Linked DNA regions of Homo sapiens: region 1 is linked to region 2. Evidence: fine-mapped expression QTL. Tissue or cell type: neural progenitor cells. Region 2 holds a variant in brackets; the other region holds the start of a gene. All regions are shown on one strand. Distances are from middle to middle.

Region 1 (8,101 bases), 270 kb after region 2:
TTTTTTTTTTTTTTTTTTTTGAGACGGAGTCTCGCTCTGTCGCCTAGACTGTAGTGCAGTGGCGCGATCCCGGCTCACTGCAAGCTCCGCCTCCCGGGTTCACGCCATTCTTCTGCCTCAGCCTCCGGAGTAGCTGGGACTACAAGCGCCCGCCACCACACCCGGCTAATTTTTTGTATTTTTAGTAGAGACGGGGTTTCACGTGTTAGCCAGGATGGTCTCGATCTCCTGACCTCGTGATCCACCCGCCTCAGCCTCCCAAAGTGCTGGGATTACAGGCGTGAGCCATCGCGCCCGGCGGCTAATTTTTTTTTTTTTTTTTTTGTATTTTTAGTAGAGACGGGGTTTCACCGTGTTAGCCAGGATGGTCTCGATCTCCTGACCTCGTGATCTGCCTGCCTCGGTCTCCCAAAGTGCTGGGATTACAGGCGTGAGCCACCGCGCCCGGCCAATATTTTATTTCTTGTAGAGACGGGGTCTCACTATGTTGACCAGGCCAGTCTCAAACTCGTGGTCTCAAGCAGTCCTCCCACCTCAGGCTCCCAAAGTGTTAGGATTACAGGCGTGAGCCACCGCCCCTGGCAATACTATACAATTTTATAAGGGACTTGAGCATCCTTGGATCTTGGTATCTGCAGGGGTCCTGGAACCAGTCCCCAGTGTTACTGAGGGATGACTGTATATACCTTTGCATATAATATATATACACATAGACATACAAATAGTTTCATGTTAGTTGTTTAAGAACTTAATAGAAGAGAACTATGTGCCTTTAGTAAAATAGATCAGTTTAGTTCTAACTGTTTAAGAACTTTGAACAATCTGTACTGTGCAATGTACTCTGAATTCCCTGGGTCATTAATGACTGATATGGTTTGGATCTGTGTCCCTGCTTAAATCTCATGTTGAATTGTAATCCCCAATATTGGAGGCGGGGCCTGGTGGGAGGTGATTGGGTCACAGGGGCAGATTTCTCCCTTGCTGTTCTCGTGATAGTGAGTTCCCACAAAATCTGGTTATTTGCAAGTGTGCGCCTCTTCCCCACTGCCTCTCTTGCCCCTTTTCCTGCCGTGGAACAGATGCCTGCATCCCCTTCGCCTCCTGTCATGATTGTAAGTTTCCTGAGGCCTTCCCAGCCATACTCCCTGTACAGCCTGTGGAACTGTGAGTCAATTAAACCTCTTTTCTTGGGGCCGGGTGTGATCGCACCCGCCTGTAAACCTAGCACTTTGGCAGGCCAAGGCGGGCGGATCACCTGAGGTCAGCATCTCGAGACCATCCTGGCCAACATGGTGAAACCCCGGCTCTACTAAAAATACAAAACCTTAGCCGGGCATGGTGGTGCATGCCTGTAATCCCAGCTACTTGGGAGACTGAGGCAGGAGAATTGCTTGAATCCAGGAGGCAGAGGTTATGGAGAGCCAAGATCGTGCCATTGCACTCCAATCTGGGCAACGGGACAAGACTCTGCCTCAAATAAATAAATAAATAAACAAACAAACCTGTTTTCTTTTTCTTTCTTTCTTTTTTTTTTAGATGGAGGTTTTGCTTTTGTCGCCCAGGCTGGAGTGCAGTGGTGTGATCTCGGCTCACTGCAACCTCTGCCTCCCGGGTTCAAGTGATTCTCCTGCTTCAGCCTCCCGAGTAGCTGGGACTACAGGCGCCTGCCACCACACCCGGCTAATTGTTGTATGTTTAGTAGAGACGGGGTTTCACCATGTTGAGCAGGATGGTCTCGATCTCCTGACCTCGTGATCTGCCCACCTCAGCCTCCCAAAGTGCTGGGATTACAGGTGTGAACCACTGCACCCAGCCTCTCCTGGAATTTTCTAAGTGGCTCTAAGATGTATTATATTTAGCCCCATTTTACAGGTAGGAGGAGCTGAGGCTCTAAGATGGCAAATTACATCAGAGGGGACCATCATCAATAAATATATTGGATTTTTTTTTTCATCAGAGGTACCACACTGGAAAATACCAAACATTTTTGGTTTTTAGATGGAGTTTCGCTCTCTTTTTTTTTTTTTTTTTTTTTTTTTTGAGACGGAGTCTCGCTCTGTCACCCTGGCTGGAGTGCAGTGGCGCGATCTCAGCTCACTGCAAGCTCCGCCTGCCGGGTTCACGCCATTCTCCTGCCTCGGCCTCCCAAAGTGCTGGGATTAACAGGCGTGAGCCACCGCGCCCGGCCGGAGTTTCGCTCTTGTTGCCTAGGCTGGAGTGCAATGGCGCGATCTCGGCTCACTGTAACCTCCGCCTCCCAGGAAAATAACCAAACTTTTTAATTGTACCATTGAAATGCCAGAATCCCTCTAGGGAGGGGGAGGAGACCAGCGGTCAGAATGCCTGGGTCCTAGCAACAGACCTTGCAGCCCCATCTTCTCCGGTTCCTCCAGGGCTAGGCTGAAGATCAGCATGTGTCGGGCCACAGCTTCCAGATTATTCTCCAGCACAAAGAACTAGAAGGATGGACAGGGCAGAATAATTCTGAGACCTGTTTGCCTGGGTCCTAGGAGACCCAGGAGAGCAGGCCCTCAGCTCTCTCCTTCCACACACCCGAGTTCTGTACACCAGCCTCTTCCTTCAAACACAGAAGTCTGTGTCCCCAGAGCTCTCTTCCCTTCCATTACTCAGAAGACCTCATCCTCGAGCTCTTCCCCACTATAGAACCCAGGAGTTCCAAACCCCAGCCCCTTCCTTCCCCCAAGACGCATCGGTTCGCTCCCAGCTTCTGCCTCCCTCAGATCTAGGAGTCTCCAGCCCCTTCATTCCTGGACCTGAGGTTTTAGAATTTCAATCCCTTCCTCCCTCAAGGACTCGGGAATCTGGGCTCTCATCTTCATCCCAGCTCACGTTGAACCTCCTGCGAGGCCAGAACTTCGCTCGGGACAGGGTCCGCAGCAGGTGCCGTCCATCCACAGAGCCCAGAAGCAGCACATCTAGCTCGGGGTTGCTGTGCACTGTATCGGCCTGGGAGTCTGGGTCCACAGGAGGACCTGGCAAGATGACAGCTGGCTGGGGCACCATGGTGGTTGGCAGAGCGTCCACCGTAGCATCCCCTATAAAAAATGGACTACAAATCCCAGTAGGCGTTCCGCCCGTGGCCTAGGTTCTAAGGGGAGGTGTTTCCTCTGAGTATTCTGGGATTCGCAGTCCGCAGACAGGACCTCGGGGCTGCCCCTGGGAGCGCGCCCTCTGCCGCTGGAGCGTTGGAGAACGTTAGCGCCCCCCTTGCCACCGACGCTGGGACTACGAGCTCTAAAAGGCCGTCTGCTCAGGCTGGGAAGGCAGACGGTGTATCAGACCTTGCGTGCTGGGACTCACTTTCAGCCTGCAGGTCCAGCGCCGGGGACAGGCCCCACCAGGACACGGAGCCGAAGCCGCTGCCGGAGCCGGCAGGTGTGGTCATCACCCTGCGGAAAAGACATTCTGGGAATCGCACACATTGCCCGCCCCGCTCCCCTCTCACCGCCCCTCACTTCTCGCCCCTTTGCCTCCACATGATACCTTGCCCACACCTTTATCCTCCAAATATCCCGGGACGCCCCTTCCTCTCTGCTCAGTGCAGCACTGTGGACCCGCGGCACTCCACAACCGCTGCCCAGAGTCCCCGCCCTTTTCGAGGAATCAAGCAATGGAAGCATGTGGGATGGGACCACAGCGAGCAACTGACCAATGAGAGTGAGCGAGGCCCGCCCTCTACAAACTTTTGGCCAATGGGAGCACTGAGGGCCAGCCTTCCCCCACACCTAGGAGAAGAGGGCGTGTGGACGCGGTTGTCATGACGACGGCGCCGGCGGGGGAAGGGGCGGTGCTAGAACAGGTTGGGGCGGAGTCAGGGTCGGTCCAAATTTCTGGAATGGGGGAGGCCTGGGCTGATTAAAATTGAGAGTGAAGGGAGCTTAATCTTATTTCTTGTTTTTTGTTTTTTTGTTTTCTTCATATGCCTTTGCTCATACGTAACGGAATTTTCATCAATTCAAATAAAGTGAAGTGTCTAGACTTTAGATGGCAGGCTTCTGAGCCCGCTCCCCGCCCCAGCACAACGTGGGCTCTACCACACAGAACAGCCCACAGGTGGGACACTGATGTGCAGGTCATTAAAAATTCAGGGATTTGTGAGCTGGTTATTGTTACACGAAGCCATAATTTAAACTTACAGCTAGATCCTTTTGTAGTTTCTAAGCGGGATGATTGGGTGTTCACGCGCATGCGTGAGATGTGCCTCCCTCAAACCTTGTTACGACATCGGCACATTACTCTTCTGACATGAACAAAAAAATTACAGGTAAATTCTGTAATCGTACAGTTAAATCAACTGCATTAAAATAAGGGTAAGTCGGCCGGGCGCTGTGGCCACGCCTGTGATCCCAACACTTTGGGAGGTCAAGGTGGGCAGATAACTTGAGGTCAGAAGTTGGAGACCAGTCTGGCCAACATGGTGAAACCGCGCCTCGACCTTAAAAAATACAAAAATTAACCGGGCGTGGTGGCACGCACCTGTAATCCCAGCTACTCCGGAGGCTGAGGCAGGAGAGTCTGTTGAACCTGGGAGGCAGAGGTTGCAGTGAACTGAGATCGCGCCTCTGAACTCCAGCCTGGGCGACAGAGCAAGACTCTGTCTCAAAAAAAAAAAAAAGAAAAACCAAAGTCTGAATGAGGCACATCTCTAGATCACCCCAGCACCCAGCACTGGGCTCAGCGCCCAAGGGGACTTGGCTCTCTGCCTCCTCTCCTTGCCCAGACACATGAGCTTAGACCAGTCACCCTTTCTGAGCCTCAGTCTGCTGCTCTGTGAAATGGGAATGTAGCGTGCAGCGGGCAGAGGTGCAGCGGATCTGCCTCCTGAGGGCAGATCTGGGCACTGGGAAGACAATACCTACTGGGGAAACGAAGGTTGAGACCTCAGACATTCCTGCAGAATCAGGCTGGCTAACCAGCCCCTTCCAGGCCAGCTCTAAGCCTGCAAGAGCCCCAGATCCTGGGTTTCTCTCTGGAGAATTAATGCCTTTCCTCCCTATTTCTCCCACTCTCCCAACAAATTCTCAGCAAAGGAACCAGAGTGACATTTTTTTTTTTTGAGATGGAGTCTTGCTGTGACACCCAGGCTGGAGTGCAGTGGCGCGATCTCGGCTCACTGAAACCTCCGCCTCCCGGGTTCAAGCGATTCTCCTGTCCCAGCCTCCCAGGTAGCTGGGACTACAGGCATTTGCCACCACACCAGCTAATTTTTGTATTTGTATTTTATTTTGTGTATATATATATATATACACACACAAAATAAAATACAAATATATGTATATATATTTATATATACACAAAATAAAATACAAATATTTTGTATATATATACAAAATAAAATACAAATATACATATATATACATATATATATATATATATATAGAGAGAGAGAGAGAGAGAGAGAGAGAGAGAGAGTTTCACTCTTGTTGCCCAGGCTGGAGTGCAATGGCGCGATCTCGGCTCACCGCAACCTCCGCCTCCCGGGTTCAAGCCATTCTTCTGCCTCAGCCTCCCGAGTAGCTGGGATTACAGGCAGGCGCCAGGACGCCCGGCTAATTTTGTATTTTTTGTAGAGACAGGGTTTCTCCGTGTTGGTCAGGCTGGTCTCCAACTCACGACCTCAGGTGATCTGCCCGCCTTGGTCTCTCAAAGTGTTGGGATTACAGGTGTGAACCACCGAGCCAGGCGATTTATTTATTTATTATTTTTTTTTTAGAGACGGAGTCTTGCTCTGTCGCCCAGGCTGGAGTGCAGTGGCACGATCTTGGCTCACTGCAACCTCCGCTTCCCGGGTTCTAGCAATTCTCCTGCCTCAGCCTCCCAAGTAGCTGGGATTACAGGCGCACGCTGCCACGCCCAGCTAATTTTTTGTATTTTAGTAGAGACGAGGTTTCACCGTGTTGCCCAGGCTGGTCTCGAATTCCTGAGCTCAGGCAATCCACCTGCCTTGGCCTCCCAAAGCGCTAGGATTACAGGCGTGAGCCACCGTGCCCAGCTCCAGCGATTCTTTTTTATTTTTAGTAGAGACGGGGTTTCACCATGTTAGCCAGGCTGGTCTCGAACTCCTGACTTCAAGAGTTCCGCCGGCCTCAGCCTCCCAAAGTGCTGGAATTACCGGTGTGAGCCACTGCACCTGGCCCAGAGTGATCTTAAACATAAATCAAATAATGTCTCCCACCTCTTCAAATCCTCCAAAGTCTTCCCGCTGCACCTGGACACATTCCCCGCTCCTTAGCTTGGCTCCCTATGCCCTATGCAATCTGCAGTCATCCACCCCTGAAGCCACATCAGCCTCCTGGCTCCTTGGAGAACACACCAAGCCGTTTGAACCCCAGGGCCTTTGCAACTTGGGATTCTTTTGCCTTAAATTATCTTCCCCCTCATCTTTGTTTTCTATATATTTATTTTTGAGACAAAGTCTTGCTCTGTTATCCAGACTTGAGTTCAGTGGTGTGATCATAGCTCACTGCAGCCTCAACCTCTCAGGCTCAAGCAGTCCTCCCACCTCAGTCCCCTGAGTAGCTGGGACCACAGGCAAGTGCCGCCATGCCCGGATATTTATTTATTTATTTATGTAGAGAAAGGGTCTCACTAGTTGCCCAGGCTGTTATTTATTTACTTATTTGAGATGGAGTTTCACTCTTGTTGCCCAGGTTGGAGTGCAATGGCGCTATCTCGGCTCACTGCAACGTCCACCTGCCGGGTTCAAGCCATTCTCCTGCCTCAGCCTCCTGAGTAGCTGGGACTACAGGCATGTGCCATCACGCCCAGCTAATTTTGTATTTTTAGTAGAGACAGGGTTTCTCCGTGTTGGTCAGGCTGGTCTCAAACTCCCGACCTCAAGTGATCCGCCGGCCTTGGCCTCCCAAAATTCTGAGATTACAGGCGTGAGCCACTGCGCCCGGCTGTATTTATTTATTTATTTATTTAAGGCAGGGACTTGCTCTGTTGCCTAGGCTGGAGTACTCCAGCCTGAAACTCCTGGGCTCAATCGATCCTCCCACCTCTGCTCCCCAAGTAGCTAGAACTATAGCCACGTGCCAGCATACCTAGCTAACTTTACAAATTTTAAAAATAGAGAGGTTATCCAGGCTGGTGTCTAACCCTGGGCCCCAAGCAATCCTCCTGCCTCCCAAAGTGCTAGGATTAAGGCATGAGCCATCGTGCTTGGCCTTGTTTTCTTTTTAAATTGGTGTAAAACACACACACTATTAAGTTGATTGGGAATGACATTTAGTACACTTGCAATGCTGTGCAACCATCACCACTGTCTAATTCCAGAACTTTCTCATCACTCCAAAAGAAAACACGTACCCCATTTATCTCCCCATTTCTCTCTCCTCTGTCCCTGGCAACCACGAATCTACTTTCTGTCTCTATGTATTTGTCAGTGCAGGAGATTTCTTTTGGATGGAATACTGCACTATGCAGCCTTCTGTATCCGGCTTCCTTCACTTGGCATAATATTTTCAGGACTCATCTATGCTGAAGCATGAATCAATGCTTTCTTCTGTTTTTATGACCAAATAATATTCCACTGTTGTTCTCCCTAACCTTTGCAAGCTTCGTTCCTTCTTGTCATTCAAGTCATGGCCCAGACCGCACCTCCTCAGCAAGGCTGCCCCTGACCACCCTCCCTAAGTTATGTCAGCCTTTTTACGTTTTGGTCCCAGTGTGGACGGCCATTTGTAATGGTTTTATTCTTCTATCGCTCTGCTTTCTTGTTGAGACAGAGACCCAAGGACCCCATTGCCATCATCTAAATCAATCCCAGGATTTAGAGACAGGCTCTCTGGCTGTGTGATTCTGAGCATTTCACAGGAATTCTCTCTCTCTCTCTCTCTCTCTTTTTTTAGATGGAGTTTTGCTCTTGTTGTCCAGGCTGGAGTGCAATGGCGCGATCTCGACTCACTGCAACCTCCACCTCCTGGGTTCAAGCGAGTCTCCTGCCTCAGCCTCCCTAGTAGCTGGGATTACAGGTGCTTGCCACGACACCCAGTTAATTTTTGTATTTTTAGTAGAGACAGGGTTTCAGCATGTTGGCCCAGCTGGTCTTGAATTCCTGACCATAGGTGATCCGCCC
Region 2 (8,101 bases):
GGGCTGAGGCAGGAGAATGGCGTGAACCTGGGAGGCGGGGCTTGCAATGAGCTGAGATCACGCCACTACACTCCAGCCTGGGCCACAGAGCGAGACTCCGTCTCAAAAGTAAACAAACAAATAAATAATAAATAAATAAATAAAGGGAAAGTGCCACAATTTTGGATGAAGGGGGTTGAGGGACTTTACGTCAGGTCCAGGACTTGGATTACAGAGACACAATGGGGCTAGATTCCCAGAGATGGATAAGATTAAACTCATATAAGTCGTTTTGCTGACAGAAGGACCTTGTTTGGAAAAAGCGTTTTCAGAATAATAAAGTTCCTGAGCTCTTCAGAAAAGTATTTTATTGTCCTGTAACCACAGTAACAAGTAGCCACCAAAACTGATTTTTAACCCATCATCAATGACAACTCATCTCTGTGAAGATGCTCTTTTTTTTTTTTTTTTTTTTTGAGACGGGGTCTTGCTCTGTCACCCAGGCTGGGGAGCAGTGACGTGACCTCGGCTCCCTGCAACCTCTCTTTCCCGGGTTCAGCAATTCTCCTGCCTCAGCCTCCCCAGTAGCTGGGATTATAGGCACCTGCCACCACACGCAGATAATTTTTGTATTTTTAGTACAGACGGGTTTCGCCATGTTGGCCAAGCTGGTCACAAACTTCTGACCTCAGGGTGATCTGCCTGCCTCAGCCTCTCAAAGTGCTGGGATTACAGGAGTGAGCCACAAAGCCCGGCCACTCCATACGTTTTATATTGTTATGTTACCATCAGTCAGGCAGCTCCTTGCTTCTAAAAGTCATCCAATCAGACTCATTTCAGTAAACACCCAAGCATGAGTGACAACCAATCAAAGTAATATCTTCCCAATGACCACACTTTTCCAGATGACGTCAAGCCACAGAAGGCCCTGAAAATCCAACAATCTCTGAAGTATACATTTCCCAGGCTGAGCGCAGTGGCTCACACCTGAAATCCCAGCACTTTGGGAGGCTAAGGCAGGCAGATCACGAGGCCAGGAGTTCGAGACCAGCCTGGCCAACATGGCAAAACCCCGTCTCTACTAAAAATACAAAAATTAGCCAGGTGTGGTGGCACGCACCTGCATTACCAGCTACTGAGGAGGCTGAGGCAGGAGAATGGCTTGAACCCAGGAGGCGGAGGTTGCAGTGAGCCAAGATCGTACCACCGCACTCCAGCCTTGGTGACAGAGCAAGACTCCATCTCAACAACAACAACAAAAATGGTTGAAATAAAACTTCTATGTGTTGAACGATTCCTCTTTTAGGCATAGAGTTTCAGTTTTACAAGATGAAAATATTCTGGAGATCTGTTTCAAAACACCGTGAATACATTTAACACTGCTATACTGTACACTTACAATGGCTAAGATGGTAAATTGTATGTTATGTTTTTACTACAATTTTTTTTTTTTTTTTTCTGAGACAGAGTCTCACTCTTGTTGCCCAGGCTGGAGTGCAATGGTGCGGTCTCGGCTCACCGCAACCTCCGCCTCCTGGGCTCAAGCCATTCTCCTGCCTCAGCCTCCAGAGCAGCTGGGATTACAGGCATGCGCCACCACGCCTGGCTAATTTTATATTTTTAGAAGAGACGGGGTTTCTCCATGTTGGTCAGGCTGGTCTCGAACTCTGGACCTCAGGTGATCCACCCGCCTTGGCCTCCCAAAGTGCTGGGATCACAGGCGTGAGCCACCACGCCTGGCCTACAATTTTTTTTTAACTTTTTTTTCTGAGATGGAGTCTCGCTCTTGTCACCCAAGTTGGAGTGCAGTAGTGTGATCTCGGCTCACTGCAACCTCTGCCTCCCTGGTTCAAGGGATTCTCCTGCCTCAACCTCCCAAGTGTGGGAGATCAGTCAGAGTAGCAGAAGAAATTATAGGAATAGGAAGCAGCAAACCTTCTTGGAAGGCCAGGGAGGTTGGCATAGCTTCAGATAGTTTGGCTGAAAGCAGCCAGATTCTCTTTTCAGGAGCCAAACAGCTTAGGGCGCAGATACAAAGGAATGCGGAGTATTTTATCTAAATAGCTTGCTTAGTCATATGGTCCTAAAATCAACCTTTGATCATTCTCGGGCAAGATGGCCCTCTCCAGGGAGGTGGCGGGGGGCGGTGACCAGGTTAATTACCCACAGGTGTGTTGACTCAAAGCCTTTGTTAATTAAATCTGTGCTAAATAAATGCAAGCGTTGCCAGCTTAGAGGGGCTGCACTCTCTTTGGCTCCTAGTGCCGGCAGCCCCCTGGCCTGCTCTTTCACTGAATATTGGTGTCTGAGGACGTGTCTCATCTGTCGTACAGCTGGGATCTGCAGAACAGATCCCCCCCGCACCCAAGAAGCTGGGATTACAGGCACCCGCCGCCATGCCCAGCTCATTTTTGTATTTTTAGTAGAGACAGGGTTTCACCATGTTGGTCAGGCCGGTCTCGAACTCCCGGCCTCAGGTGATCTGCCCGCCTCAGCCTCCCAAAAGTGCTTGGATTACAGGCATGAGCCACTGCGCCTGGCCTTAGAAAACTTCTTTTTCTTTTTTTTTTTTTTTTTTTTTTGAGACAGAGTTTCACTCTGTCGCTACGCTGGTGTGATCTGGGCTCACTGCAATCTCCGCCTCCCAGGTTCAAGTGATTCCCCTGCCTCAGCCTCCCGAGTAGCTGGAACTACAGGTGCGCACCGCCACGCCCGGCTAATTTCTTGTATTTTCGTGGAGACGGGGTTTCACCATGTTGGCTAGGCTGGTCTGTTTCATGCGCGTCCGTGTGAAGAGACCACCAAACAGGCTCTGTGTGAGCAACAAGGCTGTTTATTTCACCTGGGTGCAGGCAGGCTGAGTCCGACAAGAGAGTCAGCGAAGGGGGATAGGGGTGGGGCCGTTTTATAGGATTTGGGTAGGTAAAGGAAAATTACAGTCAAAGGGGGGTTGTTCTTTGGTGGGCAGGAGTGGGGGGTCACAAGGTGCTCAGTAGGGGAGCTTTTGAGTCAGGATGAACCAGAAGAAGGAATTTCACAAGATAATGTCATCAGTTAAGGCAGGAACAGGCCATTTTCATTTCTTTCGTGGTGGAATGTCATCAGTTAAGGCAGGAACCGGCCATCTGGATGTGTACGTGCAGGTCACAGGGGATATGATGGCTTAGCTTGGGCTCAGAGGCCTGACATTCCTGTCTTCTTATATTAATAAGAAAAATAAAACGAAATAGTGGTAAAGTGTTGGGATGGCGAAAATTTTGGGGGGTGGTATGGAGAGAGAATGGGCGATGTTTCTCAGGGCTGCTTCGAGCGGGATTAGGGGCGGCGTGGGAACCTAGAGTGGGAGAGATTAAGCTGAAGGAAGATTTTGTGGTAAGGGGTGATATTGTGGGATTGTTAGAAGAAACATTTTTCATTTAGAATTACTGGTGATGGCCTGGATGCAGTTTTGTATGAATTGAAAAACTAAATGGAATAAGGAAAGGAGAAAAACAGGTATTAAAGGTCTAAGAATTGGGAGGACCTAGGACATCTAATTAGAGAGTGCCTAAGGAGGTTCAGCATAGCCTTGCCAGCAAAGATTATTTATTTACTTCAAGAGTTAAGAGTGGTGGTTTGGGGATAGCACCAGGAGATATCAGCTGTGATGGCTTGGAAAAACAGTGTAAACCAGCAGTGTAAACAAGAGCAGGGCATGTGTGAGTAGTTGAGAATGGTGAATAGGAGTATGACTAGACAGAAGATAGTAGGGATGACAAGTTTTT[G/T]GGGGCACATTCCAAGTTGGTCTGGTGTCTGGAATGAGACTGGGGCTTAATAAAAAGGAGCGTCTATACAGGAGCTCAAATGGGCTGTACCCTTTAGCATTCTGAGGACAGGCCTGAATTCTGAGAAAAGAAAGTGGTAAAAGTATTGTCCAGTCTTTTTTAAGTTGGTGGCTGAGCTTGGTGAGGTGTGTTTTTAAAAGACTATTAGTCTGTTCTACTTTTCCTGAAGACTGAGGACTGTAAGGGATATAAAGGTTTCACTGAATACCAAGAGCCTGAAAAACTGCTTGGCTGATTTGACTAATAAAGGCCGGTCTGCTATCAGACTGTATAGAGGTGGGAAGGCCAAACTGTGGAATTATGTCTGACAGAAGGGAAGAAATGACCTCGGTGGCCTTCTCAGACCCTGTGGGAAAGGCCTCTACCCATCCAGTGAAAGTGTCTACCCAGACCAAGAGGTATTTTAGTTTCCTGACTCAGGGCATGTGAGTAAAGTCAATTTGCCAGTCCTAGGCGGGGGCAAATCCCCGAGCCTGATGTGTAGGGAAGGGAGGGGACCTGAGCAATCCCTGAGGGGTAGTAGAATAGCAGATGGAACACTGAGAAGTGGTTTCCTTGAGGATAGATTTCCAGGATGGAAAGGAAATGAGAGGTTCTAAGAGATGGGCTAGCAGCTTGTAACCTACATGGAAGAGGCTATGAAATATCGACCGAATAGAATGGGCCTGTGAGGCTGGAAGGAGGTATTTTCCTTGGTCTAAGAACCATTTGCCTTGTGTGGGAAGAGATTGATGGGTGGAAGTTTCAGTGGGGGAGTAGGTGGGAGTGACTGATGAGAAGGAGAAAAACTGGCTGTGGGGGACAGAAATTGGCATGCTAGCTGCTTGTCTAGCTACCTTATCAGCATAAGCATAGATGTGAGAGACAGAAGTTGGAAAGCTAGCTGCTTGTCTAGCCACCTTGTCAGCATAGGCATTGTCTAGAGCAATGGGATCTGATGACTTTTGATGGCCTTTGCAGTGAATGACTCCAGCTTCCTCTGGGAGTAAAGCGGCCTTGAGCAGAGTTTTTATTAAGGAGGCATTAAAGATGGAGGACCCTTGTGTAGTGAGGAAACCTCTTTCAGCCCATATGACCGCATGGTGGGGCAGAATATGAAAGGCATATTTAGAGTCAGTATAAATATTGATGCATAGTCCTTTTGCATCAGTGAGGGCTTGAGTTAAGGCAACTAATTCGGCTTGCTGAGAGGTAGTGGAGGGGGCAGAGCGGTAGCCTCAATGATAGATGTGGAAGATACTATAGCATAGCCTGCCTTTGCTGGTGAGTGGCGATTAGGCCTGGTGGAACTGCCATCAATAAACTAAATGTGATTAGGGTGAGGAATAGGAAAGAAGGAAATGTGGGGAAATGGGGTGAATGTCAGGTGGATCAGAGAGATACAGTCATGGGGGTCAGGTGTGGTATCCGGAATAATGTGGGAGGCCGGATTGAAGTATGGGCCAGTAACAATGGTAATTGTGGGAGACTCAACAAAGAGTGAGTACAGCTGAAGGAGCCGGGGAGCAGAAAGTATATGCGTCAGGTGTGAGGAAGAAAATAGATTTTTGGAAGTTATGAGAACTGTAGAGAGTGAGTTGAGCATAGTTTGTGATTTTGAGGGCCTCTAAAACTATTAAAGCAGCGGCAGCCGCTGCTCACAGACGTGAGGGCTAGGCTAAAACAGTAAGATCAAGTTGTTTGGACAGAAAGGCTACAGGGTGCGGTCCTGGCTCTTGTGTAAGAGTTCTGACCACGCTAACCATGCCTAGGAAGGAAAGGAGTTGTTGTTTTGTAGAAGGTGCTGGGGTTTGAGAGATCACTAGGACACGATTGGCAGGGAGAGCACGTGTGTTTTTATGAGAATTATGCCGAGATAGGTAACAGAGGAGGAAGAAATTTGGGCTTGACTGAAGTAATGGGGGCTGTCTGTGAAGCCTTGCAGCAGTACAGCCTAGGTAATTTGCTGAGCTTGATCGGTGTCAGGGTCAGTCCAAGTGAAAGCGAAGAGAGGCTGGGATGAAGGGTGCAAAGGAACAGTAAAGAAAGCATGTTTGAGATCCAGAACAGAATAATGGGTTGTAGAGGCAGGTATTGAGGATAGGAGAGTATATGGGTTTGGCACTACGGGGTGGATAGGCAAAACAATTTGGTTGATAAGGTGCAGATCCTGAACTAATGTGTAAGCCTTGTCTGGTTTTAGGACAGGTAAAATGGGAGAATTGTAAGGGGAGTTTATAGGCTTTAAAAGGCCATGCTGTAGCAGGCTTTAATCCTTTTAAAGCATGCTGTGGGATGGGATATTGGCATTGAGCGGGGTAAGGTTGATTAGGTTTTAATGAGATGGTAAGGGGTGCATGATTGGTCACCAAGGAGGGAGTAGAGGTATCCTATACTTGTGGGTTAAGGTGGGGGGATACAAGAGGAGGACACAAAGGAGGCTTTGGATTGGGAAGAAGGGCAGCAATGAGATATAGCTGTAGTCCAGGAATAGTCAGGGAAGCAGATAATTTAGTTAAAGTGTCTCAGCCTAATAAGGGAACTGGGCAGGTGGGGATAACTAAAAAGGAGTGCTTGAAAGAGTATTGTCTAAGTTGGCACCAGAGTTGGGGAGTTTTAAGAGGTTTAGAAGCCTAGCTGTCAATACCTACAACAGTTATGGAGGCAAGAGAAACAGGCCCTTGAAAAGAAGGTAATGTGGAGTGGGTAGCCTCCATATTGATTAAGAAGGGGACGGGCTTACCTTCCACTGTGAGAGTTACCTAGACTGTCTGTGATGGTCCTGTAGGCTTCCGAGGCGATCGGGATCGGGCAGTGTCAGTCTTCAGCTGCTAAGCCGAGAAGATCTGGGAAGGAGTCAGAGAGCCTTGGGCCAGAGTTCTAGCTGCTCTGGGAGTGGCTGCCAGGTGAGTTGAACAGTCCGATTTTCAGTGGGGTCCCGCACAGATGGGATGCGGCTTAGGAGGAATCCCAGGCTGTGGACATTCCTTGGCCCAGTGGCCAGATTTCCAGTACTTGTAGCAAGCTCCTGGGGGAAGAGGTTCTGGAGGAACCCCTGGCAGCTGCGGTTCAGGCGTTTGGAGTTCTCGTGTGCTGGAGATGTGGCTGGGGTTTGTCTCATCTGGATACTGGAGTGGAGGCAAGGAATTGCAACTCAGAAATATGTTGCTATTTGGCTGCCTCTACTCTATTACTGTACACCTTGAAGGCGAGGTTAATTAAGTCTTGTTGTGGGGTTTGAGGGACAGAATTTAATTTTTGGAGCTTTATTTAATGTTGGGAGCAGATTTGGTAATAAAATGTATATTGAGAATAAGACGGCCTTTTGACTTAGGGTCTAGGGCTGTAAAGCGTCTCAGGGTTGCTGCCAAATGAGCCATGAACTGGGCTGTGTTTTTAAATTTGATGAAAAAGAGCCTAAACACTATCTGATTTGGGAGAGGTCAGATAAAGAAAAAGGAGCATTAACCTTGACTATGCCTTTAGCTTCAGCCACCTTTTTAAGAGGAAATTGCTGGGCAGTTGGGGGAGGGCTAGTCATGGAATGGAACTGTAAGCTGGACCGGGTGTGAGGAGGGGAGGTGATAAAAGGATTATAGGGTGGAGGAGCGGAGGCTGAGGAAGAATTGGGACCCAGCTCGGCCTGGCGAGGAGGGGAGATGTCAGATGGGTCTGTAGAAAAGGAAGATTAGAAAGACTCAGCGATGCTTGGGGTTGGGACTGACGGGACAGGCGGGAGGGAAAGAAGGAAGATTTGGGACGAGTTGCACTGGGCATAGAGACTAGGGAGGGACCGATGTGTAAAAGAATGCCTGGATGTCAGGCACCTCAGACCGTTTGCCCATTTTACAACAAGAATTATTTAGATCTTGTAGGATGGAAAAATTGAAAGTGCCGTTTTCTGGCTATTTGGAACCACTGTCAAGTTTGTATTGGGGTCAAGCAGCATTGCAGAAGAAAATAAGGCATTTAGGTTTTAGGTCAGGTGTGAGTTGAAGAGGTTTTAGGTTTTTAAGAACACAGGCTAAGGGAGAAGAAGGAGGAATGGAGGGTGGAAGGTTGCCCATACTGAAGGAGGCAAGCACAGAGAAAAGAGAGAGTAGAGACATGGAGGGAAGGGGTTCAGGGGTTCTTACCTTCCAGAAAAGCGGGAAAGGGGTCAGGGCACAGAAGTAAGGGATTGGGGTGCAGAGACAAGAGGTCGGGGTGTGGAAATAAGGGATCGGGGTGCAGAGATAAGACGTCAGGGCACAGAAATAAGGGATCGGGGGATTCTTGCCCCCTAGAAAAGCGGTACTTGCCACTAAGGGTGAAGGAGA

Direction of the effects. Alleles are on the strand shown, and positions count from the first base shown. SD is a standard deviation of normalised expression in the study named.
With allele G in place of T in region 2, the expression in neural progenitor cells of the gene that starts at base 3,606 in region 1 is higher (large effect, 0.82 SD a copy in Aygun 2021).

The links. PIP is the estimated chance that this variant, and not a neighbour inherited with it, causes the effect.
Region 1: DNAAF3 starts here. The variant in region 2 is fine-mapped to the expression of DNAAF3 in neural progenitor cells (Aygun 2021, PIP 0.95).

What each region holds. Positions count from the first base shown.
Region 1 is chr19:55,163,008-55,171,108 of GRCh38, forward strand. DNAAF3 (dynein axonemal assembly factor 3) reads right to left here and starts at 3,606. Exons shown (of 12, transcript NM_001256715.2): 1 at 3,516-3,606; 2 at 3,322-3,410; 3 at 2,851-2,993; 4 at 2,363-2,456. The coding sequence starts at 3,406. DNAAF3-AS1 (DNAAF3 antisense RNA 1) reads left to right here. Exons shown (of 4, transcript XR_007067345.1): 3 at 1,537-1,793; 4 at 2,812-3,897. LOC124904795 (small nucleolar RNA U13) reads left to right here and starts at 4,164; the gene lies at 4,164-4,267. RefSeq lists a silencer at 2,986-3,217.
Region 2 is chr19:54,891,543-54,899,643 of GRCh38, forward strand. It overlaps a transcript of NCR1 not described here. Among named protein-coding and RNA genes, the nearest start is that of NCR1, 11 kb to the right of the region's middle. RefSeq lists enhancers at 1,097-1,847, 1,848-2,600. The variant G/T (reference allele first, on the strand shown) is at 3,744.